Regions from separate parts of the Homo sapiens genome. Here all the other regions are reported to be linked to region 1. Evidence: microRNA targets listed by miRTarBase, many of them from high-throughput screens and not tested one by one. Region 1 holds a microRNA gene; each other region holds the end of a gene's coding sequence. Distances are between the middles of the regions.

The links. The annotated mature microRNA hsa-miR-574-5p reads UGAGUGUGUGUGUGUGAGUGUGU and lies in region 1 at 1,235-1,257, shown strand. An mRNA with a match to its seed (bases 2 to 7 or 8) in the 3' UTR can be bound and repressed. Matches are read on the target gene's strand: a 7mer-m8 pairs with bases 2 to 8, a 7mer-A1 pairs with bases 2 to 7 and ends in A, and an 8mer does both.
Region 2: miRTarBase lists MX2 as a target of hsa-miR-574-5p. The part of its 3' UTR that is shown has no 7-base or 8-base seed match.
Region 3: the mRNA of PTPRU is a reported target of hsa-miR-574-5p. Seed matches in the 3' UTR shown: 8mer at 881-888 and 7mer-m8 at 948-954.
Region 4: miRTarBase lists GFRA1 as a target of hsa-miR-574-5p. The part of its 3' UTR that is shown has no 7-base or 8-base seed match.
Region 5: miRTarBase lists PCDH10 as a target of hsa-miR-574-5p. The part of its 3' UTR that is shown has no 7-base or 8-base seed match.
Region 6: miRTarBase lists RUNX1T1 as a target of hsa-miR-574-5p. The part of its 3' UTR that is shown has no 7-base or 8-base seed match.
Region 7: the mRNA of SLITRK3 is a reported target of hsa-miR-574-5p. Seed matches in the 3' UTR shown: 7mer-m8 at 2,922-2,928.

Annotation. Positions count from the first base shown.
Region 1 is chr4:38,866,822-38,870,917 of GRCh38, forward strand. MIR574 (microRNA 574) reads left to right here and starts at 1,211; the gene lies at 1,211-1,306. It overlaps FAM114A1 (family with sequence similarity 114 member A1), which reads left to right and starts at 985. Exons shown (of 15, transcript NM_138389.4): 1 at 985-1,013; 2 at 1,577-1,725. It also overlaps a transcript of TLR6 not described here. RefSeq lists silencers at 749-1,228, 1,279-1,328 and an enhancer at 1,536-2,119.
Region 2 is chr21:41,408,003-41,412,098 of GRCh38, forward strand. It overlaps MX2 (MX dynamin like GTPase 2), which reads left to right. Exons shown (of 14, transcript NM_002463.2): 14 at 1-1,391. The coding sequence ends at 231. Among named protein-coding and RNA genes, the nearest start is that of MX1, 16 kb to the right of the region's middle.
Region 3 is chr1:29,324,809-29,328,904 of GRCh38, forward strand. It overlaps PTPRU (protein tyrosine phosphatase receptor type U), which reads left to right. Exons shown (of 30, transcript NM_133178.4): 29 at 383-518; 30 at 791-1,992. The coding sequence ends at 853. Among named protein-coding and RNA genes, the nearest start is that of LINC01756, 23 kb to the right of the region's middle. RefSeq lists an enhancer at 154-959 and a silencer at 889-1,183.
Region 4 is chr10:116,060,825-116,064,824 of GRCh38, forward strand. It overlaps GFRA1 (GDNF family receptor alpha 1), which reads right to left. Exons shown (of 11, transcript NM_005264.8): 11 at 1-3,720. The coding sequence ends at 3,574. Among named protein-coding and RNA genes, the nearest start is that of SNORD158, 130 kb to the right of the region's middle.
Region 5 is chr4:133,189,797-133,193,892 of GRCh38, forward strand. It overlaps PCDH10 (protocadherin 10), which reads left to right. Exons shown (of 5, transcript NM_032961.3): 5 at 345-4,096. The coding sequence ends at 364. Among named protein-coding and RNA genes, the nearest start is that of PCDH10, 43 kb to the left of the region's middle.
Region 6 is chr8:91,956,704-91,960,799 of GRCh38, forward strand. It overlaps RUNX1T1 (RUNX1 partner transcriptional co-repressor 1), which reads right to left. Exons shown (of 12, transcript NM_175634.3): 12 at 1-3,814. The coding sequence ends at 3,539. Among named protein-coding and RNA genes, the nearest start is that of RUNX1T1, 140 kb to the right of the region's middle.
Region 7 is chr3:165,184,289-165,188,288 of GRCh38, forward strand. SLITRK3 (SLIT and NTRK like family member 3) reads right to left here. Exons shown (of 2, transcript NM_001318810.2): 2 at 2,432-4,000. The coding sequence ends at 3,609. Among named protein-coding and RNA genes, the nearest start is that of SLITRK3, 10 kb to the right of the region's middle.

The DNA of each region.
Region 1 (4,096 bases):
GTGATATTGAAAGGGAGAGACTAGGGCTATTTTTTCTTTAACTTTGAATTTATAATTCTTCAAAAAGAAGAAGGGATGGAGTGAGAGAGGAGAAAATCTGCCTTAAACACATCGCTCAGAAAGAATCACTATTTTTAAATTGTATTTCCTCCGACTTTTATAGAAAATACAAAATTGTTTACAAAACTAGTTAATACTATAAACACTGCGCTTCCTCCGCATCTGAGTTCATATTAAGCCATATTTGAGGAAGGCCTTCATATGTGGCCTTCCCTCCATGTCAACGAATCCTCATTTTTAAGGGCTACAACATATTCGATGTCTGAAGTTACTGTAGCTTACTTCACCAATCTTACTGGGGGACATTGAGATTGTCTCCGGCTTCCCCCCGCAGAAACAACTACAACAAACATCCTTGTACATACATATTTGCCCATTTGACTGCCTACTTAGGACAAATTCACAAATGTGGAATTCCTAGGCCAAAGCTAATACATCGGAGTTTTAACCCACAGCTCCAAACTGGCCTTCTGGAAAGTGGGTTTTCGTTGTTTGTTTGGGGTTTGTTTGTTTTAAATCTATCACACTCCCACCGACAGGGCAAGGGAGTGCTGCTTAACGCAGAATCAGGAGATCAAACTTTAGCTGAATTTGAGCGACCTCTTCCCAGTGACACGGCGGGGGGTTTTCCAAGCCCTTTTAAGGAAAGGAAAGGGATCTGGCGAACCCCGAGACCCACCCGCCCTGGGCTGGAGAGGCGGCGCGCTCTGGCTTTCCGCGCTGGCACAGGGGTGGGACAAGCCAAGTTTCCAGGAGACTCGCCCAGCGCGGGCCCGGCCCTCGCAGCGTGGGGGTGGCCGGGCGTCCCCGCGGCGCTCCTCGTGGGGCGGGGCGCAGGCGGGGCGGGGCCCCCTCTCCAGCCGCCCGCCCTCCGGCCGCGTCCCCGCCGGCCCTGCAGACGTGGCGGGGCGGGACCCGCTGGGCACTCCCGCGCGTACTCGGCCGCCTGAGCGGTAAGAGCCCCGGGCACTCGGTCCCCATCCCCTTCCCCGGGGGGCGGGCGAGCGCGGGGGCGGCTGCCCGGGGGTGGTGGGAACACCATACCTTGGCGCCTCGTCCGGGACCCACGAATCCTGCCCTCTGCGTTAGTGAGAAGCAGTGGTCAGGGAGGACCCGGCTCTGGGGTGAGGGTCTGGGGCGGCGCGGCCGAGGGACCTGCGTGGGTGCGGGCGTGTGAGTGTGTGTGTGTGAGTGTGTGTCGCTCCGGGTCCACGCTCATGCACACACCCACACGCCCACACTCAGGGTCTGCCCCCTCGGCCTGCGTGAACCTCCGCGGAGCCTGCCTGGATCTCCCAAAGTATCCAGTCCTGGCACCAAGCAAGTCTGGAAAAGTGCCCCCAATGGCTCGGGGCCAAGTCAGAGGTGGGCTGCAGGGTCCCCCAGCCCGGGCACGAAGGGAGCAGGTCCCTGTAAGACAGAGGCCTCGTCCCAGGGTGCGCCTGCCCTCGGCCTTGGCACAGGGAGCTCAGGCCTTGACCTCCCCGCTCCCCTCGCCTTACTCCTCCCCCAACAGCCGACCCACGCCCTGCCTGCTCTTCCAGTCCAGCCAACACTCTAAGCAGGCACCGCCTCCACTCGCAGCCCCCGGGATGGGTCCCACTCCCTACCGCAGATCCCCAGGCCCCCTCCACCCAGTCGGCTAGCCCTCGCCTCTGCCATCCGGTGAGTATTTCCAGGCACCTCAGACCAGGCGCCTGAACGTCACTGCCTTTTCTTAAGTAGGAAGACATCTCTCTATGGGCTGTGAGAGCATTACCTATGCCCTACTGATCCCATCATTTCCCATCCTAAACATCTTGAAGGACACAGGCAGGTGGCTTCTTAAATCAGTGTGCTCTGAACTCCCTGTGACCTCAGCCAACCTGTGACAACTGAGAATGAGACAGGCTCTATCCTCAGAGCCTCTTTTTGCCCTCTCTGCAGCCTAGTGGCTCCTTCCCTACCCCACCCATAGGCCTGCGTCCCCGCCCTCCTTTCTTCCATCAAGCCTGAGCTTGGGAAAGAATCTGATAAACTTCTTACATTGTAACCTTTAAGTGAAGGAATGAGACGTTAGGGATGGATTTGAGGCACAAGTGAGACAGTGCAGAAGGAATTTGAGGGTTGGAGGGGGCTTTCTTGAATCTGAGCGATTCAGACCATAAAAGTAAACTTGTCTTTGTTTATTTGACCAGGCTTACATCAAACATGGTTTCTCTTTTATTAATATCAAACACAATGTATTTCAATTCAGTAAATATCTGAGGGACAGAAACCAACCTAGGTGCTGTTGGTCACAGTCTTGGAGGACAGAATGGCAGAAGTAAATACTCCATAAATACATGGAATAGAAATCTGTGCAAAGTGCCAAAAACATAGAAGAGGTAGCAGTTATTTCATTGGAAGCAGTGGGGCAGATTAAGGAAAAATTCAGAATGAAAGGTAACATTAGACACTGGGTGTCTAGAGGAATAGGAGTTTGCCAGGCAGCTGGAGGAAGGGCAGCACCGGGGCAGAGGAACCAGCGTAAGCAAAGGCAGGGAGATGTGAAGAGTTATGGGGAATGGAGAAAAGACTGGTGAGGCAGGAGTGGAGGATACTGAGAGTTGCAAGAGGTGGAGAGAGATTGGAGCTGGATTATGATGGGAAGTGTGAAGATATTTACACCTAATGGTTTTTGAACAGGAGAGCAAATAGGTCCAAAAATGCCTGGCAGCCTCACAGAGAATAGGCTGGAGCCTGGGTACGTAGACTTGTCAAGCTTTATACAAACTCATACAAACTGCTACAACCTGATTAAGAGCCTCTCATCCAGAGTTTTTATTCCTGGTCCTTCGCTGACTGGCACTGTTTTTGTTTTTTTTTTTTAACTGGGGGAGATGACCTCACACAGGATATCATGCTAACCAAATTTTTATGCTGCCAAGTCAGGCCATTTTTTTTAAAAAAATCCATCCACTGTCACTATTTCATAAAATGAAAGACATTTTAATACCAAGAAAAAGCACAAAGGCTAAACTTGAAAGATGAAGGCAGTCCTTTACATTTAATAAATTTAGATTTATGAAAAACTTGCAATCTTGTCCTCATTTTTCTCTATCATCACAGACTTGCCCCAGTCCTGCAGGTGGAGTTTGGAAAAAAAAGCATCCAGATCAGTTTGTCCATCCTAGCTTTACAGAGGAGCAGGTGTAAGCACAGTGAGGATCAAGTTGTGTGCCCACAAAGGGATACTGGGACCAGAGGCCACATCCCTTGACGCCTGCAGGACACAACTCTTTCCACCTCAGAATACCATCGCTCCCACCTCTCATCATTCCTCCATGCAGCCTCATGTCCTGGCCTCTCAGACACCTGTCCTGAATCACTACAGTCCATCGCTGATGCTTGGACATTTGCACATGCTCTCATCCCACCAGGCCTGAATCACCACATCAAAGACACTTTCAAGATTCTCCCTTGCACAGGGTCAGTCTAGTTCAGGCACATCTGTCCTTGATTTGCTGTGCTGTTTTGCATCACTTTTTAACTGTTTTGTGTTAGCTCCTCAAACAGATGATTGATTTCTGAAGGATAGTGACCATGTCTTCTGTTTTATACTTATTTTTGGAGCTGTGATGTTGCTGCTTAAATACCTTGCATAGTTCTGGGAGCATTTTAGGTGATGAATGAATTTACTCACGAAAAACTAACTTATTCCCAGCCCACAAAGGCTTCTTTATATGCCACCCTTCCTCTCCTTAGAGTTTCCTGAAGCAGCCTCCTTGTTTCTGTGGGTTGAGTCTCCCTAGCCTCCAGTCCACGAGACATGGCTACAGTGATCAGTGTTCCTAACCATAAATCAGGAAAGGTTTCTAAGTCTGGCTTATGGAACACCCAGACGGAGATGGAAACCGTCCCAGGAAACACAGTGCTTGTCATGACTGTAATCCTGGTGGACTCCAGCAGCCCCTGCTCAGAAACAGTTCTGTATTTCAAACACACAGTTTCTAGTGGTTTCATACAAAAGGGTATAGTCTGAAAAATGATTACATTTCCCCCATCATGATAGCAT
Region 2 (4,096 bases), not on the chromosome of region 1:
CGTCTCGCCAACCAGATCCCATTTATAATTCAGTATTTTATGCTCCGAGAGAATGGTGACTCCTTGCAGAAAGCCATGATGCAGATACTACAGGAAAAAAATCGCTATTCCTGGCTGCTTCAAGAGCAGAGTGAGACCGCTACCAAGAGAAGAATCCTTAAGGAGAGAATTTACCGGCTCACTCAGGCGCGACACGCACTCTGTCAATTCTCCAGCAAAGAGATCCACTGAAGGGCGGCGATGCCTGTGGTTGTTTTCTTGTGCGTACTCATTCATTCTAAGGGGAGTCGGTGCAGGATGCCGCTTCTGCTTTGGGGCCAAACTCTTCTGTCACTATCAGTGTCCATCTCTACTGTACTCCCTCAGCATCAGAGCATGCATCAGGGGTCCACACAGGCTCAGCTCTCTCCACCACCCAGCTCTTCCCTGACCTTCACGAAGGGATGGCTCTCCAGTCCTTGGGTCCCGTAGCACACAGTTACAGTGTCCTAAGATACTGCTATCATTCTTCGCTAATTTGTATTTGTATTCCCTTCCCCCTACAAGATTATGAGACCCCAGAGGGGGAAGGTCTGGGTCAAATTCTTCTTTTGTATGTCCAGTCTCCTGCACAGCACCTGCAGCATTGTAACTGCTTAATAAATGACATCTCACTGAACGAATGAGTGCTGTGTAAGTGATGGAGATACCTGAGGCTATTGCTCAAGCCCAGGCCTTGGACATTTAGTGACTGTTAGCCGGTCCCTTTCAGATCCAGTGGCCATGCCCCCTGCTTCCCATGGTTCACTGTCATTGTGTTTCCCAGCCTCTCCACTCCCCCGCCAGAAAGGAGCCTGAGTGATTCTCTTTTCTTCTTGTTTCCCTGATTATGATGAGCTTCCATTGTTCTGTTAAGTCTTGAAGAGGAATTTAATAAAGCAAAGAAACTTTTTAAAAACGTAGCCAGGTTCAGTGACTCATACCTGTAATCCCAGTGACTCTGGAGACTGAAGCAGAAGGATCACTTGAGCCCAGGAGTTCAAGACCAGACTGGGCAACACAGGGAGACCCTGTCTCTAAAAAAATTTGTTTGTAAGTAGCCAGACATGGTGGTGCACACCTGTAGTCCCAGCCACTCAGGTGGCTGGAGCAGGAGGATCCCTTGAGCCCAGGATTTTGAGGCTGCAGTGAGCCATGACTGCACCATGTACTACAGCCTGGGTGACAGAGTGAGAGTGAGACTCTGTCTCTGAATACACACACACACACACACACACATACACAGAGAGAGAGAGAGAGAACTTCACACCAGTGATCATCATTATGGGTAATTTTCTTTTCTTCTTCATGTTTTCCTGTATGTTTCAAATGATGAACATATAGATTCCTTAATAAAAAGGCAATAGAATAAATATCATTGCTGATTTGTTTTAAAACCCAAGTTTGAGATGGAAAGAGTGCCTCAAAAACATTCAGCTTTGTTCAGGGGTACAGACGAGAAAGATTACGTGAATTTCTTTCTTCATTTGCTGTAAAAGATGTTGGAAAAGAAAGTTCAAGTCAAAAATCACAGCTTGACCAGCATCCCCAAGAGCTCTCTTGCAGAGGTCTCTTTGATTTGTGTTCAAATGCTAGTGTATTAGTCTGCTATAGCTGCCATAACAAATATCACATGCTGGGTGGCTTAAGCTACAGAAATTTATTTCCTCCCACCTCCAGAGGCTGGAAGTGTCTGAGATCAAAGTGTTGCTAGTTTGGTTTCTCCTGAGGTTTCTCTCCTTGGCTTGCAGACTGCCACCTTCTCACCAGGCCTATGCTTGGCCTCTCTCTTTTCTCTTACAAGGATCCCAGTCCTCTTGAATCAGGTCCCCACCCTTAGGGCTTCATTTAAGCTTGATCACCTCTTTAAAGACCCTACCTCCAAATGCAGTCACATTGGGAGTTAAGGCATCAGCATATGAATTTGAGGGTGGGGGCATAATTTGTTCCATTACAGCAAGTAAGAAAATAGACATGTGCATTCTGAACACAAAACTCGAGCAATGACCAAAAACTTGGAAAAAGGTATCTCTAATTCAAAAGGCAGCAGATCTGGCCTGAAGCAAACCAGATGATCATGGAAAGGCTGACATTGATCGATTGCTTGCAATCCTCCAAACGTGGAATTTGGGAATATGTTCCAGTTATCTATTGTTGTGTAACAATCACCCCAAAACTTAATGGCTTAAAACAGCAGATGTATTCTTTCTCTGGATTCTGTGGGAAGTCTGTGTTGTTCCTCTGTGTGTCTCACCTGGGCTCACCCATGCGTCACAGTCACACAGAAGCTAGACAAGGCTGGGAGGTCCAAGGGAGCCTCACTCTTCAAACTACATTTCCATAAGGAACACTTGGGTTTCATTAGCACTGATTTCCAAAAGTAAGAATGTCAACCTAAAAGGAAGAAGCTGGCTATTTTTTTTTTTTCAGAGGGAAAATGGTGGGTAAGAAGCAGGACTAATGTGCAGTTTCCACTTGGATGGATAGAACAGCATGTGGAGACTCACATTGTGAGCTTTTTCTCCAAGAACCACCACAGGAACATACCAGGAAAACCAAAAGAATTCACAGACCCTTTGAACAAAGTGGCTTGTCACTGCAAACACTGTGAGACAGCCAAAAAACTGTGAGCACCCGAAATGTAAGAGGGGAAAGCATCTCCAAACACACATCCTCACTGGGGAACCCAAAAATCCAGATCAGAGGGGAAGGATTTAACAGTATCTAGAGCTGAAATAAATTTAGAGAGCCGAGTGAAATATAAAAGTAGTAGAAGCAGTGGGAAGAGCCCTGCAGGCACTCCTGGTCCCCAGGGAAACCCAGGGAAGCCATTTCTGACTTTAATCTCACAGGGGTCCCTGGGGAGGGCAGCCAGTGGAAGTGGGGAAGGGCCACAGGGAGGAGACTTCCAGCTGAACTTTGTAATAATGCTGACTGATCGTGAGTTTTCCTGGACAGCATCCAGGGCAGGGAGAAGGGGAAATGGGAAGTGCAGGTAGGAGCACAGAAGCCATGACGGGGAGGGGAGGGGCATGGCCTGAAAGCCCTGCTTGCTTTCTCAATAGGGAGGCTTGTAACCTGCGGCAAGATCTCAGTCCTGTGCACTACAGGCATGGATATAAAATCGGCTCTGTTGGATGTTGGGGGAGCATGGTGGGAGTGAGACTGGCCTTCTTGGCTGCATGGAAGCTGGATGAGACCTGTCACTGCCAGCTTTCCCTCACCTTCCTGGTGTCCTGTATGACACAGCAGAAGCAGACATAATCCCCCTGGGAATGTATCTCCATAAGCCTGAGAAGCACACCCCATCACTCACAGCAGCCATAACAAGCTCTGCCCAAGGAGAATCTGAGCTCAGACATGCCTAACCCTGCCCCACCTGATGGTCTTTCTCTACCTGCCCTGGTATTCAAAGACAAAAGACATAATCTCGTGGGAGCTCTACGGCCCCACCCATCACTTAAGAAACAGAAATACTTACCCAGGCAACCTTAGGGCAAGCTTGTATCCTCCCTATACTGTGGCAGCTATTGCCCTCTTTGTAGCGCCACCTCTTGGCTGGAGGCCAACCCACTCAAGCCATTACAGCAACTCATAACAGAACAACCCTGCCCCTAGAGAAAAAGAAAACAACAGCTAATTCCACTGCCTGTAATATCCTGGCTAGCCAGAGGTCCTGAATCTGTCCACATGACAACTTCACTGCTAGCATAACCAGCATTTGAGAAAACCAGCACACTAAACAAAATTACAAGCAAGGACACTCACAGAGCCCACTTCACTCCCCTGCTACCTCCACCAGGGCAGGTGCTGGTATCTGTGGCTGAGAGACCTAAAGACGTATCACATCACAGGGCTTTTTTCACACTCTCAGTACCAGCTCAGAGCCTGGTAGCTCCACTAGGTGGCTAGACCTTGAAGAGCAGTAACAATCACTGCTGTCCAGCTCTCAGGAAGTCCCATTCCTAGGAGAAGGGGGAGAGCGCCACATCAAAGGATCACCCTGTGGGACAAAAGAATCTAAACAGCAGCCCTTGAGTCCCAGATCTTTCCTCTGACATAGTCTGCCCAAATGAGA
Region 3 (4,096 bases), not on the chromosome of region 1:
TGCCCCGCCCTTCTGAGTTCCCTAGTTCTGCCCCTCACCTTGGGCTCTTTGGCCCTCCTTAGTTTCCTAGCCCCGCCCCTCACCTCTGGACTCTTTGGCCCCTCCTTTCTGGGTTTCCTAGCTCTGCCCCTCATCTCTGGGCTCTTTGGCCTCTTCCTTCTGGGTTCCCTAGCTCCGCCCCTCTCCTCTAGGCTCTCGGGCCCCTCCTTTCTGTGTTCTCTAACTCCGCCCCTCACCTCTGGGCTCTCTGCCCCACCCTTCTAGATTCCCTAGCTCCGTCCCTCTCCTCTAGGCTCTCTGCCCCTCCCTCGTGGTTCCCTGGCCCTTTTCTTACCTTCAGGTTCCAAGGCCCCGCCCCTCAGCTTTTGCATCTCTCATTCAGAAACGGGGGAGGACGCAGCGGCACCTTCTGCGCCTGCGCCACGGTCCTGGAGATGATCCGCTGCCACAACTTGGTGGACGTTTTCTTTGCTGCCAAAACCCTCCGGAACTACAAACCCAACATGGTGGAGACCATGGTGAGGGGCTGTGTCCCGTGCCCAGCCACTTCCACCTTCCTGGTCCATGCCAGGCCAGGTTCCTTAGCACCCACTCTCCCATATCTGGGCCCCACCACTGGGCCTTGGTTCTAGCCCTGTGGTCCTAAAACATTACCCCCATTTCTCCCTTCTCCCCGAGGGCGGGCCTGGGCTCGGGCTCGTGCTTGCCCTCTCACTCCCCGTTCCCCTCCCCCCACAATACTGGAGTTGGGGTCAGGCTCATGATTCCCTCCCTCTCTTCCTCTCCCCAGGATCAGTACCACTTTTGCTACGATGTGGCCCTGGAGTACTTGGAGGGGCTGGAGTCAAGATAGCGGGGCCCTGGCCTGGGGCACCCACTGCACACTCAGGGCCAGACCCACCATCCTGGACTGGCGAGGAAGATCAGTGCCTCCTGCTCTGCCCAAACACACTCCCATGGGGCAAGCACTGGAGTGGATGCTGGGCTATCTTGCTCCCCCTTCCACTGTGGGCAGGGCCTTTCGCTTGTCCCATGGGCGGGTGGTGGGCCAAGGAGGAGCTTAGCAAGTCTGCAGCCCAGCCCCACCTCCATAGGGTCCTGCAGGCCTGTGCTGAGAGGCCTGGTGCTGCCTGGCAGAGTGACAAAGGCTCAGGACGGCTGGCTCTGGGGGACTCAGGCCAAGCCCCTTGGCACCATCCTGGCTTTTGGCAGGGATGAGTGAGGCCCTGCAGAGAGCATCCCAGGCCAAGGTTCCCACTCAGCCTGCCCCCTCTGCATGTGGGTAGAGGATGTACTGGGACTTGGCATTTAGGATTCCATCTGGCCCAGCCCCTGAAGGTCCTGGGGAAGCAGGTCTCAATTCTGAATAGCCAGTGGGGCACACTGACTGTCCTCCCCAGGGGAACTGCAGCGCCCTCCTCCCCACTGCCCCCTGCAGCCCCTGAGATATTTTGCTCACTATCCCTCCCCACTTGCTTCCCTGATATGTGCTCTGAGCTTCCCTGAACCAGGATCTGCCTATTACTGCTGTGCCCCATGGGGGGCTCCTTCCCTGCCTGACCCACTGTTGCAGAATGAAGTCACCTCGCCCCCCTCTTCCTTTAATCTTCAGGCCTCACTGGCCTGTCCTGCTCAGCTTGGGCCAGTGACAATCTGCAAGGCTGAACAACAGCCCCTGGGGTTGAGGCCCCTGTGGCTCCTGGTCAGGCTGCCCGTTGTGGGGAGGGGCAGTGTTAGAGCAGGGCTGGTCATACCCTCTGGAGTTCAGAGGAAGAGGTAGGACCAGTGCTTTTTTGTTTCTTTTGTTATTTTTGGTTGGGTGGGTGGGAAGGTCTCTTTAAAATGGGGCAGGCCACACCCCCATTCCGTGCCTCAATTTCCCCATCTGTAAACTGTAGATATGACTACTGACCTACCTCGCAGGGGGCTGTGGGGAGGCATAAGCTGATGTTTGTAAAGCGCTTTGTAAATAAACGTGCTCTCTGAATGCCACAGAGCAGCCCTGTGTGTGTCTCACCAGCCTGACGGGGCCTGCTCACCTGCCCCCAGCCTCCAGTGCAGTGGGAGGGCCCTGGAGAAGCCTGGGTTCTGATCTGGTCCTGGTTTTTCCATTCGTAAAATGGTGGGAGTGTGGACCAGGACATCACTCAGGGTCCTTCCACTTTCAGAGTTGGTTCCAAGGGACCCTGGCCATTGCTGTCCCCATCCAGGCCTCTGAAGCAGTTCCTCAGGTAGGGTATATCAACTCGAGATCCCTGAGGGCCACAGAGCTGCCTCTCACTCCACTGGGGGCCCTGGATCAGGTTCAGCTCTTTCTGGGGCAGCATGGGAGGCTCAGGCTTTGGTGTCAGGCAGATGGGCCCAGCAGCTGCGAGACCCTGGGCAAGTTAGTGCCCTCTCTGGGGCCTACTTTATCATCTGTAAAGTGGGGACAGTCCTGTTTGGATCAGATGAGGTAATGATTAAGTGCCTTATGTAGTGCCAAGCGTGTTGAAAGGGCTTACTTTACAAACATCGCAGAGATGGGGGCAGAGGAGACACAGCCCTGCTGGGGATGACCGTCCCATTGCCCCAGCCCAGCCCATTCCCAGCCCCAGCCGCCTCCATGGGGTAGAGAGGGAGGAGGAGCAGGCTGGCTGGTAGGGACCTGGGTCACTCCTGACTCTGTCACAGGCTTGCTGCCTGACCTTGGACAAGACAATTCCTGTTTCTGGAACTCAGTTTCTTCATATGAAGGCTGACTCTATGATGTACTCATTCTGTTTGCACACTGGCTGACCCTCTGTGCCTCAGTTTCTCCATTGGTCAGAGGATACAACCCATTCTAATGACCTCACAATTCAGCATACTTTAATCTGAGTTAAAAATTAATTGGCCAGTTAGGATCACACTTGGATAGGGCACAGACTGACCCCCTCATCCTCATTCTGAGCTGACCTCTGAGCCTTACGCGATGCATCACAAATGTGTGTCACGGGTACTGGCCAAGCGATAGAATATGACTTGCTTTGGCCAATAGCATGGGCAGAAGTGATGGCGTGTGAGTTCTGGATCCCAGGTCTCATGAGGCCTTGCAGTTTTTGCTTTTGCTCTTCTGGAACTCTGCTATACAAGGGAAGCTGTCTCACCTACCGGATGATTTGAGGGCACACAGAGGAGAACCAGCGCGTGCCATGAACAGTCAGTAGCAACTCCCAGGCTGTGAGTGAGGCTGTCTTGAACCTTCCAGTCTAGCTGACCTGTCAGGTAAGTGTAGCCACATGGCTAAGCTTAGAAGACACTGCCCAACCAACCCCTAGAACTGGGAGAGATGATAAATGGTTTTTTTTTTTGAAGACAGTCTGTTGAAATCACTTGTTACATACACAGTTAGTTTTTGCTAACTGATACACACGCGTGCGGAGCAGTCTGGATGCGGCTCGGCCCTTTGCTCTGTTCGGTGCTGGCTCCTCAAGGGCAGGGAGTATTTCTGTGCCATCTTGTGTCCATTGCCCAGTAAGGGGCTTGTCATGGAGCTAGTGCCCTGGAAATGTTGGCACGAGGGAGGGAAGGAAGGAGAGGTTGGACTTGCCTGCCCGACTGACCAGGGGCCTTGTGTGGCCTCTCAGAGAAGCTGGGGAGGTGGGCTCTGTATTAGGAGGAGCACCAGCTCCAGAACCCATAGTCCCGCCCCCAGCTCCACAACCCACAGTCGGGTGACCTTGCACAATCCCCTAACAACCCTGCAATAAACATAACAGGACCTACCTGCAGGATTGGTTGTGAGGTCTAGGGACAAAATATTTAAAAGGAACCAGCATACTCCCTGGTGACATAATTGACCCTCAATAAAGGGCATCTCACGCCATAATACTGAAGCCCCTGGATAATGAAAATGGTGACGATCACCTTTCATCTAGTGCCTATTCCTGTGTTATGTGTCCTACACCCTTTGGCTCTTCCTTACTCCATACAGCAGCTCTTTAAAGGGGGGATTCCTACCCCTCCATTTTAGAGACAAGACATGGAGGCTCAGGGAAGTGAGTTTACTCACCCAAGGTCACCTGGCCACTATATGGCAGAGCAGGGACTTGAACCCATGTTTAGGCTGACTCCA
Region 4 (4,000 bases), not on the chromosome of region 1:
GCATGAATGAAAACTTATTTTCCAAAAGACAGCTCCTCTGAGGCCACAATTTTGTAAATAATAACAACAGAAATACATTTCCGCTGAATTCTGAGAAAAGAATTCGCTAATTATATAAACTCCCACTGCTCTTACATCTCTTTTCCCAGGCACTTTACATGGACTCCAAAATGCTTTGGCTCTCCCACTCTCCTAGTATAGCAGATGGAGTGCTTGGGAGTGTCTGATTTAGAGACAAGAAGGCAAGAGGGAGACGGGCGGCAGCTAGAAGCGGCCCATCCTCAGAGTGTATGCAAGACAGGAAGTGTCTGAATATGGACCAAATCAAAGGCTGAGGCAGCTCTGGGGGAGCCCTGTCCGGTGTTTGAGGAACTCGAAGACACAACTTCTAAGACATTCTTACTACAGCACAAAAGTCTGTTAAAAAAAAAAAAAAAGAAATGGAAACCACACTCCTATCACATTCTAGATCGTTTGCTATACTTCATGAAAAATAACCTATGTTAATCTCAACTTATACTTTTTTTATTACAGACTTGAAAAAAATCAGGTATGGAAAAATAAATATGTAATTGGCATTCTCAATTCCTTCTCTATATTGTGTGCTTCTTCCTTCATGTGCTCTATTAAAAAGATACTCAAGCATGTATCGGTCAAAAATATTCAACATCAAAGTGGAATGAATGTGCTTCTAATCAGTGTGGCAATACTGCCTTTATTCCCCCTCTCTTTCTCTCTGAAATAAGTAGGGCATGGCTAGATGTAATCAGGGAGTCACGGTCTGCATGGACCCTAGTTACTGTTTGGTTTCATCAAAATCAACTGCAATGAGATACTTCCTGCAAGACACCCAAACCTCAGCAGATAACCCCTGTCTTCAGTGGCACCCCAAATGCCCGGACTGAAGGACAGGAAGTAGCGAATCATTTTTGCTTTTAAGCACGCCAAGAAGAAGTGAGACAGGTAAATGATTTAACTTATTGTGCTCCAGTTCTGGGGCAAATGATGGTGTTTTAGGGTCACCGTGTCAAACTAAGATCACACTGAATGGCGGAAACCTTGCTTGGCTTGCTTTGATAAGAATCTCTCTAACGTGTTGTCCCTGAACAAGATGCTTCCCCCTATTTATTTAATCAGCAACTGATTTTCAAATTGAGGAGCTGGTAACTTGAATATGCTTTTATCACTGAAGAAAAATGAGATATTTGTTGGTGACAGATGAGGCTTTTCAAAATGTAATTTATATATTGCCTACCCATGCATTCTTCAATGAAGGCTGCCCTTGTTAGCGCTGAAACTCCCATTTCCGCTTTGGTCATCTGATGCTAATTAGAGCTGCTGTTACTGCAGAAGTAATCAGTAGCTTTCTACAGTGGATCACATAGAATCAGATCCCTATGAAATTAGTCCAGTGTAGATACACAGAGATACCTTAATGAAAACAAAATACACTCTGTAAGAGATATGCGCTCATAGATAACTGGCATTCCAAATATTTTGACACACTTACTTAATGTGTTTATTCAAAGTAAGAGTCTTTATAGATCTTTTCACTAATTAAATACAGTTGGGTGTCTGCTGAATTTCCCTTGAAAACATTTTGAAGTGAAAAAAGTCAGTACTGAGTACTGTACATTTGTGTTGATTAACATTTGGACACAAATATACTTTTAACACCAATAGAGCTGAAAGACTATGCCTTTATCTTGGATTTCATAGATTTCCCCTTCCCCCCAGTGACTTATCTTACAAGGCAAACACCAGCAGGCAAAGGGGATCTGTAGAAATGTGCACCCTGGTTTCCTCCTCCATCTCTTCTACCAATGTGGGAAGAAAGCCAATGCTTCCCAGCACTTTCTGAAGGTGGAATCTCCTCCTCTTTACTTAATGTTGGAGAAAAGTGGCCACCAGTACTCGATCATTGTAGATTCGGAATCTCGCCATCTAAACCAGACTTCAAAAGTGCACTTTCGGGTCTACTTAGTTAAGAAAGAGAATAATGGAAGATGATAAGTGGTTAGCAAAGCCAGATGCCTTATCACCAGGGTCCTGTTCTGCTGATCTGTGCCAAGCAACTCATCTCACCAAACCTAATGTCAACCCTCTTGATCCACAAACCTTCCTTCTCTTCTAACATGGTCTGCAGTCTGTCACGGAGGACATGAAACAAGATGCAAGCAGATCCTTAATGACCTTCAGACCAAACTGCTCCAAACAGTGGCCAAGACGTTGCAGTCAGGAGTAAACACAATCCTTAGGAAAAGAACTGTGCATCCCAGCATGGATGTGTTTCCAAAGAAAGGAGAACCTGCCCATGCCTCCATGTCCCAATCAAAGCTGCCTTTGTCAGATAACCTGAAAACCAAGGTACTGGATTGTGTCATGACAAGTGTGTCAAGAGATGCTGCAGAACATTTACAAGCAGCCACCAGTTCCCTCCACAGGTATGCACGCTTGCACTTCGAGCAATGACAAAAGACAATGCTTGTCTGTTCTGTTTCCTCCTGCCTGTCCACAGTCACATGATGCAGAACTTTCTGCTACAGCACGAGGCTTCTCAGAGTCTGCTTTTGATGAGCTGTATTTGTGAAGTTCATATCAGAGCGAACACTACTTATGAGGGGAAAGAAGCTCTGTGTATTTTGTATTAAACCATCAGTAAAAAAATGAGACAATATCATTACTTTCAAAATATAGAAAGCCAATAGTTGAAATCATTTAGTAGTAAAATTTTTTTCTACATATAACCTCATATGTGTAAAGAGTATTAGAGCGACATTTCAGCTATATTGGACTTTTGTTAGGTAAAGGGCTTCTCACTCAGGTAAGGCTTAGGATTAGGAGAGTGTCGTTCAGGGATTGAGGTATTGAATCGGCACACTCATTCCCCACTCTCTATTTTGACGAAAAGACAGATACTATATTTGGATGTGACAGGTGTTTTTTCTTTTGTACAAGAGTGCAGAACTGTTTACAGTACATAAACATCAGCGTGGAAAATGCTAGTACATATATAAAGGTGAACATCAGTACCAGCTGTTTCCACAAAGCCCACTCTTGGTAAGAATCTTCTTTGTGGCAAAAAAGCTTGGCATCAATGTAGGCTGAAATTTATATCATTAGAAATCAATGTCATTAAAGGAGATATGGGAGTTACCTTAGAAATATTAACTCCTTCTCTAGCTAGGAAAGGCCAGAAGTAAAACTGTTAAAATCATCATCATGATCATGATGATCATCATCATGATCATGATGATCATCATCATGATCATCATCATCATCGAAAACACAGCCCCAGTTTGCTTTACAGCCCAAGTTACAAACTGTCCCTTTAAAATACAGCATATCCCAAAGCCTTCTGAGTTTGGATGGAGCACTGCATCAGGTTTTTCACAGAAGCCCCAAAGGATCACAAGAAGCTTTCTTAAAAGGAAAAAAAAAAAATGTTCCAGTTGAATGGAACTGTTTCTCAACTGAGCTCCTAAACTGGAATTTCAGCTATACAAGAGAACAGGAAACAGATAACTTGGTTTTTGTCTTTTTACATGTCCATATTGTATTTTTTTAATGCAGCTATGATGTTTCTGTTAAAGATAATAGGGTGGACAGAGCGGTTACCACCAGGACCAGCAGTGGGCTCAGACCACAGCTTGGAGGAGCAGCCATTGATTTTGTGGTTATGTGGCTGGAAGCACCGAGACCTTCTTTTTCATAATTACCCTGTAAGGAAGAATGGTTTCATTATCATCCACTGCATGTCTTCATTCTACCACAGTATACTTTACACTCTCTCTCCCCCCGACTCCCCACTGGCTGACCCACTCACCAAAGCTGACCAAGATTTTACCACTGAGACTTACATTCACTGACTTGTAGTTTTATGGGAAGAAACCATGAACCTGGGTTAGAACCAGATACTTTTGATAAAGCGTCTGGCCAATGCTTACTGCTTGCTCTTCCATTAGGAATTATTAAATTCATTTTGGGGGAAGATATCTGA
Region 5 (4,096 bases), 94 Mb from region 1:
GGCCACACATTTTTTTCTATACTCTGTGCATAAATAGTGAAGTGTAGGGATTGTTTTATGTAGATAACTTTAAAAAGTTAATCTTCACAAATTTCATCTTTGGTATATAAAATGTACATTTCCCATGCAAAACTAATTTATAAGAATATCAAAATTATCATTCTCAGAAAACCAAACAACAGAATGGCTGTGACTACTAGCAGTGAAAAAGTTTGACACTACATGTGTTTGGTATGAGGGTACAACTAGTTTCTAACTGTATTCTTTCTTTTACAATAATGTGTAATTCTAAACTCCAAAAGTCAACCTCTTTTTCTTAGAGTATTTTTCTTTCTTTTTCACAGCACGGAAAAGGATATGCTAGTCAATTCTACAGGACTTACCTGAAGCAGCATGATTTGCACAAAGTCGACCAACAAAAGCATCAACTTTTCAACTTCATTATCTTGGCCATCCAGTTAGTCATGTGTAACTGAGTATTAGATTTCGGATGGAGTCATCATGGCCAATTATAGGACCTAATTGCTCTCAGCAGGCCTGAGAAATGAGTTGAAATGTGCAGAACTGTAGAAACTTTAGAGGCAACAGATTTTGCCTCCCCGATCAGTGTGTGCCTGTTTACAGCACTATCTATCTTTCTCTCTCCAAATGTCACTGAGCCCTTTAGATGTTTATATTCACCACGAGAAGCCAGTCATAAAGATAAAGGAAATTTGTGCATTATAAATGCAATATCACTGTTTTAAACTTGACTGTTTTATATTATTTTTGTGTGATCAAGTGTTCCGCAAGCTATTCCAACTTTACAAGAGAAATTGTGATTATGTTCTTTTCACCTGTGGGTTATAAAAAATGTTGTATTCTGAAGACCCACAAAATATCAAAGACATTCTGTAGTTTATACACCGTGTTGCAAAGTGTTTACTGTACTATTTCAAAGCTTCTAAATAAATATAAAATATATATATTATATTATATAATTTTCCTAAAATGTGGTACAACTCAGTTGGTTTTTAAATGGATGCATACAGTCCACATCATACAATAAAATAAAAGGTAATTCAGGGTCCCAAAGACAAACTTACTAAGAAAAAATCATTAATAGTTTTCTCCCAATTTCCATATCTTACTCAACCGTGTTTTTCCTTGTTTAAAAGAAAATGATGCTCTAAGCTACAAAATTTTGTCAAAAACTCATATTGAATTTTCAATGCCAAAGATGTAGCTATTGATGTTATCAGACAGAGCACTGACTATGTACTATCAAACTATCTAACAATCTGCATAAGTCTGATTCTATTTCTATGACTTTGAATTTAGAATCACTTAAAGCTTTTATAAAGAATCGATAAATTCACCTGTATTTGTTGTTAGAAAAAAACTGGGTGTCTGTACATTTTGTGGTGTAAAATATGTAATTGAAGATTACTATTTTAAGAAGTCATCAGTCATATCACTCACACAGAATTTTATTTTACATAGTTTTGTGACTTAATTACACATGAATATAAAATCTATAATTCTATATGAATATATAGAGATATAGAAACATCTGAACTGGTAAAGAATAACTATAAAATATGAAAGCTCTAAATTTAAAATAAATTTAGAGATAGAATCATGGTACATTATTGTTTCAGTATTCCATGTGAAAATTTTATAGCTTAAATGTAGTCAGTGTTTGATTAATGAAAAAATTCTTCATGAGTCAGCCTTCAAAAGTTAAGCTTGCCTTTTACTTTTATGTCAACAATATTAATTATTAAATTTAGTAAGACGCACTTTCCTTTCTTTTATATATTTTTTCTACTGTTGTGTATGCCTTGTTAGAACACATTCGAGAGAGGAAAAAAATCAGAGAATATAAGATAATCTTTCAAGCAAAAAACAGAATTGTCACAGCTCCCCTCGCCCTCTAAACTATGATATCAAAACATCATATCAAAGCTTCAACATTATATCAAAATGTTTGCCCAGTTCAAATTAGAAACCTGTTTTGAAATACTTTCCTTAATTTTTAACTGATCTTATATTCAATGACAGTTTGAGCTGCACTGTGTTATTAAAGAATAGACTAAAACTTAACATTTGACAAATGTTCTTCATCAAATTTTATGTAACTTAAGTGGAAATTTTTCCCTAGATTTAACTTTAAAATACATATATATACACACACACACACACACACACACACACACACTTAGGTCCTGATATGTACATTTAGAGTGATATATTGGTATCACTCATTTGACTGTTATCAAATTAGATATTAATATATCATATTCCAATCAGTTCATATATCAAAATAATGTATGTAATGTTCCAGCCTTTTGAAGTCTCTTTAAACATATATGAAGCTAACAGATCATATGTAATACAAAAAGCACATAAATTCACTAAGTGCAGCAGTAACATTTTCTTAAACTTTGGCATTACTACATTAATATTTTGAATGATAGACTATTTTAGTAAGGAAATGTTTATACATAATTTAACTGGAAAAAAGTCTGTTTGTTCCAACTCTTTTTTTTAGCAAGAAAATGATTTTCTTGTTGAGTCACTCTGCTTTAATTAAAATGTTTCACGCATCATTTTGCAATCATGGGTGAATATCCACATCCATCTTCCTTACTGCATGCATTGAAAATAAGATTATACTCACTTCATGTATAGTAATTATATTGTCATTTACCTCAAAGACATTTTCTTTAATTATTTAACCTTTTATATCATTGTATATAATCTCCTTTGAACCAACTTTTTTATTATATATTTGTGTATTAGTTATTTTCATATATCCTAGGAACTAGTTATACTAACTTACATTTTAGTTATCATCAATCTACAAAACCAAAACCAGAACTTCTTCCTAATTTGCGGGACAAATAGAATTGTTTAAGGATAAAATGCTACATTATTAGGTCATTAATCAACTTATCTGTTGCATCCAAAGTAAATTAGAAGTTACAACAGAGTAAGGATATGATTCTTGTAAGTTGGTTAAAATGTTTTCTTCCAATGAGGGGGACTATAAAATGGAAAGTGCAACCAACAAATAATGAAGGTTTCTAATTAAGCATTTACTAGATTAATATATCAAGGAATTTTAGGATAGGTTTTCTCTTTAATCTGGTCATTCTAATATCCAATCTTACATAATTTTATATACATCAAAGAATAATATCCATCGTATTAGACAGTATTTCGTCAATAAATTATTTCAGAAAAAAAAATCATGTCATTTACTCCTTGTTAACATGGTTAGTTTTAGAGCAGTCAAAGTCAAAAAAAATTTCCTGTGGAAACAGTGTCTTAATGTTTCAAAGGTATGTCAAAAGACAATTTTTAGAAAATATTTCATCCACATGTAGAATTCTAATTTTTAACGTGTGAACATAGTTTGGTGAAATCATCTTAAATCAAATTTAAATATCACATCAGAATTACTTCACAGATATAATAGCGTCAATGATATATGTATCATCTTTTCTTGGCAAATATTAAGGAAATATGTGTATTTTATTTTTTAAAGATATTAAATGCACTGCCTTTATCAAACATTGCAAATTAAGAACTATAGTAGAATATTTAAATATTTTAATTTCTCATTGTTTTATTTGTTAATTGGATTGTAATTTGCCATCAGATTCTCTGTATTATAGAAGCTATCTTGCTTCTTCAATAAGAGGAGGAAAAAGAATCTCACAATTCCCAATATAATCTTTAACAACTGTACGTTAATTGTACCATTTTACCTTCTAAACATTATTTACTGGAGCTCAGTTAGTCTTTAAAACAATTACTCAGGCAGAGTGTGGCAAAAGTTCAGCAAGATCAAGAAAAGTATTTAAGTTATTGACTGATCATAGCACTGTTATTTGTCATTGCATGTGTTTTTCCCCCTCATGTTTCTATGTGTGCTATTGATACCCAAGGAACTCAAAAATACTTAAAATATTGGTATACTTGATGATTTTTCTGAAAATCTTATATTTTTCATATTACAAATTCTTGAGTTCTTTATCTTTTTCAAGTCTAATTTTGTAGTGGTAAAGGCTTTGCACTTAACATCCTTTTGTGTTCCTTTTTAACAAGG
Region 6 (4,096 bases), not on the chromosome of region 1:
TAGTCTACCATTAACTTGTGGTACATGTCTGAATTAAGTATTGCACAACAACTTTAATTTTTCACAATGTCGCAGAACCCAAAATAATATTTTAAAAAAATTACTTCAAATCTGCATTTCAACAGTCTCCAATTTTTTTTCTGTCCCTTGAGGAATTCGGACAACATGGAGTCGCTTTCTTTCCCTAAGTATTCCAGACGTAGGCATGCTTTGCATAAGTAAACCAGCCTTGAAATTTTTAAATCCCCAAGACATGCACCTACACATAAAAAAAAAAAAAATTTAAGAAAAAAAAAAGACAGGTGGCCCTGTCACACACAGTCTCATGACAGAGAAAAAGAGAAAGAGAAAAGAGTAAGAGACAGAGATAAGAGCTAGAGGACGCCCTATTCCTATCAGCGACCACCATTCAATTCTATCCAATGAAGATAACTTTTTCTTAATGTGTTATACCTACAAATTATATTCTCACATAGCCTGTATATAAGTGACAAGCAAAAAAGGAAAGTAACAAAAGTTTTCTTTTCTTTCTCTTCTTTAGGTTTATGAGGTCTGCATTGTTACCAAGAAGTGATATGGTTTGCAGCTGTATGAGCTTAACTTTTGGTATCCTGGTTCTTTTGTGCCCATTTGGTTTGACTAGACCAGTTTTTGTTAGCTACTGGTGCAATATACATGCTGTCAGAGGTAGAGTGAAACTTTTTGCCACTGAGGAGAATGTAGCAAAACAGGAGGAGAGGAAGAGGAGGAAGAGGGGAAGGAGGAAGAGGAATCAGAGATAGAGCTCAGAGTTAGGGATTTTTTTTTGTATTTGTTTTCACTCAGGGTGCCCTGAATTAAAAAGTAATGAGACGTACTGTACTAATCCTTATTTTACACACTAGTGTTAAGAATAACAGTGCTGTTTCACATACATCACAGCTTCTAGAGATAAAGACGTGTGGGTATGACATACCTCATTTTTGGGATTATTTAACCCTTCGTAGCCTAGAACATATAATAGCTCTGTAAGAAAGGACTGTCCAGTGTCACAAGCAGACTAGAAAGCAGAGTGAGGTCAAAGGATTCTGGGAGCACCATGATAAAATATAACCCATTCAGAGCCTGGTTATGTGCTTTCATTTCACTTTAAGCAGGTGTGCTGGCAGATGGACTTCCAACATGTAGATAGATGTATTTATTTGCTCATCAGAACTTTCTAAACTAAAAAGTCATTTAAAAAAAATAACACCACCCAAACAAAATTAAAACCAACTTGTATATGAAAATACAGGGAAGAAATGCTTTTAAAAATGTTAGATTTAAGAGACTTAAAGCAAACCTTAGGATTGCCTCTATGCAGATACTTAAAAGCCACTTAAAACTGTTTCCAAGGCCTACATTTAACCCTCCCCCCACCCCCCGCCCCAAAGCTAATGGATTGTTTTTGATTTTAAAGAAATGCCTGGTGTATATGTATTTGGAGAAGTGTCTTCCCAGCCTTGTAAACTTTGGTTGTCTACACAGCCTGCAGCACTGCTGACTTTCCTAAAGCACACAACCACATCCTGGGCTACTGTTTTCAAAACTAACAAGTAGTTCTGGTCTGGACCCTGGACAACGAAGGGTTAATGGATTCATACTATACCTTGCTGAACATGTTTAACCTGCTGATCATTTGGAAAGTAGTACTGGTGCTTTTCAAAATTCCGATTTTGGTCCATCAGATCAGTCTTTGGCTGACTTCCCTTTTTGTAAGAATACTGTATAACCTGGCATTCAGCAGTGTTAAAGCTGTCAATCTACACCTCAGCATTTGGAGCTCTAATGATTTTTACTTTTGTAAAATTAGAAATACTTAAACGACCTTACAGCAATATGCATGCACTGTCCTTTTTTTTTAAAGTAGGATATCTTGTTATTTTATTTTTTTAAAAAAGTCCCTAATAATGATTTAAAAAAAAAAAAAAGAAAAATTCCACGACTACTCTATGCTACAGCTAAACTTGATGAAATGGCTCTAGCATATTTAAAAAGAATTTGCTCAAAAAAAAAAAAAAAAAAACAAAAAGCATGCCTAGGGAGTCATTGTGACAGTGCAAAATACATTTATGTACATCCCTCTTACAAAAACACCAATATGTTAGCATTCCGTGAAGCATGCTGGTTTTCAGGAAAAAAAAAAATCCTATAAGAGAGTGAAATAGCAGCTCCGAAAGATAGCTTTTCTTCTTTTCTTTTCTTGAGGACAACCAAAAAGAGTCTTTTTTTCCTTTTTTTTTTTTTAACTACTAGAGAAATATCACTAATACATACAGATATAAAAGCAGCATAGAAAGATACAGGTTTCTCACCAACTAGGAATAAAGAGACTAAATGTGGGCATATGGTTAAACTACAATGCATCTTCACATTTGTCCAACACATTTACAAGAAAAACACCATTGGGAAACCTCACAGGACAGAAGTGTTTTAACACCAAGAGAACTACTAGTTTTTAATTAAAAATCCAAACAGGGTGGGGTTGAAAAATTTTGGAAAGGGGCTGGAGCTGAAGCCACCATTTTTAAAATTATTTTTTTCAATATAAAATGAATGAGCTGGAATAGACCCAATGTCTTACTCTGTGGAACCTTGCAAAAGTGAAGAAACGTTGAAGGGTTATTTAGGGCAGCTGGCTGATGTCAAAACTGCCAGAATGCTAATTAACTGCAGGCTGAGTCTCTTACTTGTGTGTGTGTGTGTGTGTGTGTGTGTGTGTGTGTGTGTGTGTGTGTGTGTGTGTATATGTGCGTGTGTGTGTGTGTATATATATATATATATATATATATATGGAGCCTTTTGTATTATGGCATTTTTTTTTCTTGCTGCTGTATTCATACATCCCATTGCAAATCATCTTTCATTTTTCATTCTGTTGACCTGGATATTATTATTTCTTTTCAGAAACAGGAAAAAAACCGAACATCTGTGTCTCCTTCCAATCTGCTGCACATCTGCGCGTTTTGTAGCGGGTCTTCAAAGTTCAGTTAGCAACCCACGGACGCCATTCATCTTCTTGTTAAAATGTCTACTGCTGTATCCAATGCTCATGCCCTTGAGGGTTTTCCTCTTTTTTTTTTTTCCATTATTGTATATAAAGAACATTGTGACTTTTAATATTAGCATTTTTGCTTTCAACAGCAATTAGCAATCTCTTGGTTTGCTGTTTGGTAAAGCATCGGTTAATGAGGTCATCTAGTTTAAAATCCCAGCTACTTGAAAATAACAGGGAGGAGGTCAAATCTATCATTTCATGTTATATTCTCTGCTCTCTTTTCAGTTCTCTAAAGAAAAGATATCTTTGTTATCCACAATAAGTCATTACGACCCGTTACTGGCCCTCTGTGTTTTACTACCACCTCAAGATACAGTTAGGTTCTCTCTTGCTGAAGTACTGAAATAGGATAATTCATCTAATAAACAAACAAACAAAAAAAACAACTTTGAGCATCTGAGGATGAGGAATTGGTTTCGCGTTGGTTGTGTTGTCTTTCCTCCGACAGTTCTGAGTTCACGTCTAGCGAGGGGTTGTCTCTATGGTGGAAGGGGTTCCCGGGGTGGTTGACCTCGGAGTGGCTGCTGGTGGTGTGTCCATCGGGCTCCCAGCCCCGCTGTTGGGCGTGACAGAGGAGCTGACTGCAGGTGTGTCTCCCTGCTGCTGGGCCTGCAGGGTCTGTCCACAGATGTGATGGTGCTTCTCCCAGTCTTTGTGCTGGCAAAATGAGCCACAGTATCGGGCTGTGTTACAGCCACTGCAGGTTTCACTCGCTTTACGGCCACAATTCCAGCAACTCTAAAGGAGAAGGCAGAAGAAAGCAAGATCCCAAGTTAATACACTGTTAAGACAATAGTCTGACAAATATGTTAGGCATCACTGTAGCCTTATTTTCAAGAACTATACAGTCAGGATGAAAAATCCAGGTGTTCACGTATGGATACAAACACTAAACACAGAAGATGCAGGTTTTGATGGGATGGTTGTCCAAACTGCTCTGCCAACAACTACTATGGCATCTGACAAAGCAGTTGAAGACTTTTTAAGTTCTTACTATAACATCCTTTCTTTTTAGGTTTG
Region 7 (4,000 bases), not on the chromosome of region 1:
CAATTACATAAAATAATATAGCATTCTAAATAAAAATATAAAAACATCTACATAAATAATACCACATATGATGTATAACATGATGTTAAAACTTATTGAATTAAACTAATAGTTCATTTCCAATTATTTCTCACTAATCATCTTATAGTTTGAGATATTACAATATTTTTATTATTTCTAAATATTATTACTATACTTGGTAATAAAAATAGCAATGAATAATAGCAAGTAACTGCCAGAACTGGGTCTGCTTTAGTCAAGTTAGTCCTCACAATGAAGTGAATTAGTAATCTAACTTTTTCTTAAAAATAAATATTTTACTACAGCAAAAACATAAAACATATTATAATCATAGTACCTACATGAATATCCATCGTGTTTAATGAAATCAGATCTAGTATTATAAACTGAAGCTAACTTAGGTAATTTGAATGCACAGCAAAAATAAATGTCCTAACCAGGGGGTGGAAAATTCCATAAAAGCAAAAAACTATTCCCTTAAATACAAAATTCCATTCTCATATAAATTTATTTTTGCTAAATAAATAAATTTATTTCTCATTCAAGGGTGAAAGTACCACCTATATTTAAGACCAAACAGTCTTTCTGTATTTAATAAGTGAAATATAAACATTATAATTATCAAGTTATATTGTGATTTGATATTGTTTATGGGCACTCATTTTTCAAACGTTGAAAGCACCAGGGTCTTTTGAGATTGTACTTTAGCCTGATTTGTATAAAATGCTGTGTTATGAATATGTGCGTGGTCATTAAGGAAATGAGGACTACTATCTGAAGCATCTAGCTTTGCACTTTTAAGTTTTTACTATGCATATGCTTTCTATTATTCCCCAAACCATTTGATTAGGAGGAATGGAAGTATGATAAATTGCTAGTTCAGAGAGACTCTGTAATTTGGGTTTTAAAACACTTAAAGTGTAATATTGGTTTTATGTACCTTAAAAAAAAGAGACAGATGATTAGAAAGAATAAAGGAGGTGGGATAACCAGAAGAAAGGTGATTTGTGGGAAAGTAAAAAAAGAAAACAAGAAAGAAAAGAAGAAGATAAAACAAAAAAGAAGAATGACACTTATCTAATAATTGGCCTGACTCTTCTGCATAAGAGCTTCATTTCAATATTACACAGACAGATAAAGTGAATGATGTTCATGGGCTTTTTCCTTTTAAAATAATTCCAAATTATATTCAAATAATTGAGCATAAAAGTTATAGATACATGTCAAGAGCCCCAAAACTGCAATTTTATATGTATATACTTGTCTTTTTTATTTTTATGCATACCTATGCTGATATTTCTATATAATTAATTAAGAGGAATATAAATATATTCTTGTAGACATTCATGGGGCTTTTCATTTTGTTACTACAATGCCTTCGTGCTATTGTAGTCACACACCTTCAGAAGCTGCTAGACTCATTCTCTTTTTGTGGAAAAAATTGTGATGTAAGGCTTCAGTGACTTGTGATGAATTACATTCAACACCTAATGATAATTCCTGCTATGGGCACTTTGAGGAAACCCTAGCAGAGAGCACTGACCTCGCTGCACAGTTCTGCGGGTCCTGGGTCTGTGGATCTCTGGAACTCTGCTGCCCTCTAATGGCCTACTTAGATAAGTGCCTGCCTCATAGGTCTGTTTTCTTAAGTTTCCTCCACCAATTTGATACCGGCACCATAAAAATCCAATATTCTTTGGTTTCGCTCACATATAAATGGATCTAAACTTGGTTTGTTGTCAGGTTAATTTTTCAACATAATTTTAATGTCATATGACGAAAAACTCATTCAGCATCCTCTGACTTAGTTCAAGCGTTATTGGGGCCAGTTGCTGTAAGTGGTTGGAAAATGGTAACCAAATATAAGTGACAGCTTTCACAGGATTCTGGCCATCTAAATTGGCTCCACGGCCTTTGATATTTATTGGGTTGTGTGGGTGTGTGTGGAAGCGTGTGGGTGTGTGAGGGTGTGCATGTAATTGGACTACATATTTTAAAAACAATAGCAATTTTACTTTCCAATTTCTTTATCTCATTTATTATCTTAAGATGTATGGATCCTAGATTATCTTCTCCTAATTAATCCTGTACTTCTTAGCGATCTAGTTACTTTATTTTCTCCCCCTTGCATCTTGCCTGGGAAACAGTGCATCACTGGTTACTAAGACTGAAATTCATAATTCAAGGAAAAAAAAGTAAACCGTAAGTCACATTTTAAGTCTCAATTGTATCCTGGTTTGGACTAGAGATGGTGGGATATAAGATTTATCAACATCACAGTGCATCAAACCCGTTAATAAATTACTTTCTGTGTAACAAGTAAAAGAAATCATTTCTAAAATGGAAGCACGAAAGGCATGGCATAGCTGGAGTTTAAGGTTCAAGCTTTGTATCCTCTATATATAATGTATTATGTTTTTCAAAAACTTTTTATTAGGAAAGCTATACCAGAGGCATAATCACTATACAATGATTAAACATTACCTTTACAATTTATAATCACTGAAATTACAGAATAAATATATGCACATTTCTTTTGAATCTTTGTGTGTGAGAGAGAAAACATTAAAAGTGCTTCCTACAAAGCTGTTAGTGATATATACCCAGTTGCTTTTTTTAATATTATATATATATATAAGAAAGTGCAGATGTTCTCCAAAAAATCTTGGCATCAGGATGAAGTGTCACAAAGAGGGTGCTCATCCCTAGGCGTGTGTCTTCGGCTGTTAAACCACCAGGCCTCTACTTCAGTAGAATCCAGCCTAGAATGTGACTTTTCCCAGGGTGGTAGGAGAGATGCTGTGAGCTGTACACTAGCAGTGAAGGGTGGTAGAACTATGGAGAGGAGAAAAATGGATCAAACCCGAACTAAGCAGATTGAGTTGAATGGAAATGGTATGGAGTGTGTGTGTGTGTGTGTGTGTGTGTGTGTGTGTGTGTGTGTACCTGCACCAGCAGGAAGAAACTGCAGGTTTAGGGACCATGGTCTGCAGATGGATATGTGTATGAGAGACAAGATAGTGAGTGAGAACATTCGAGCAAGACCCGCCCCCTCCCTCCCCATCTTGCAGTTTCCAGGCATGCAGCAAACTGCATTGTTAATACATGTACAGAATCTGTGCCATGATGATAAGAAAGAAAGCCACAAATGACAAATGTCAACTTGTTTCCCCCCCTTTAAATCAAAACTACAACTATAAAAAAAATAGTTACTGAAAATAAAAAGACACATTGAATTTTACTTAATTAGGATCCATACAATGATCCCCAGTATATCTTATACATGGCACAGTCAAAGTCTCAAGTTTCAGTATAAAAAAATAATGATAACATTTGCTGGCAAAAGTCTGCGAAGGCACTTTCATTGATTAATGATCTGAGTATGGCCCTTCCTCCAAATCGCATCTGAGAGGGGAGAGCATACATCTGTATTCTCTAGTTATCATGCGGTTTTAGTTTTGTTCAGGGTAGGAAAGATCGTGAGGATGGAGTTACTGGGACAAGTGTAAAGGGAGCAAGGGATATATTTCTTTTATTTTCCTTTTCTTTTGAAAAAAAAAAAGCACTAATATATTTTCTTCTCTCTGTTAGAACCTGTATGTTGTCTTCTCCAGGACTTCGAGGTAATCCGGCTTGGTTTGAAGTTTGGCCCTTAACTCGAGGTAATCACTTTTTTGGGTTTGGTGGTCTGTGAAGCCCTTTCCAGCCGAGAAGAGAAGGGTTTCTTTGAGCCTGGCATCCTGCTGTAAGTCTGGGTATTGCATGCCAGGAGGGTGCACGTGCAGTTCCTTTAATTTGGGCACTGTTCCATAGAGACAGTCCACAAATCCCACTGTGCAGGGGGCAGGCTGTGGCCTCTCTCGATCTAGTAGCATACTGCCACTACCACAGCCTCCCCCAGGAGGAAACAGCACCACCCCACCATTTTTCTCATGGTGGCGGAACCCTGCCAAGTCTCCCCCAGTTCCCCCAACTACTC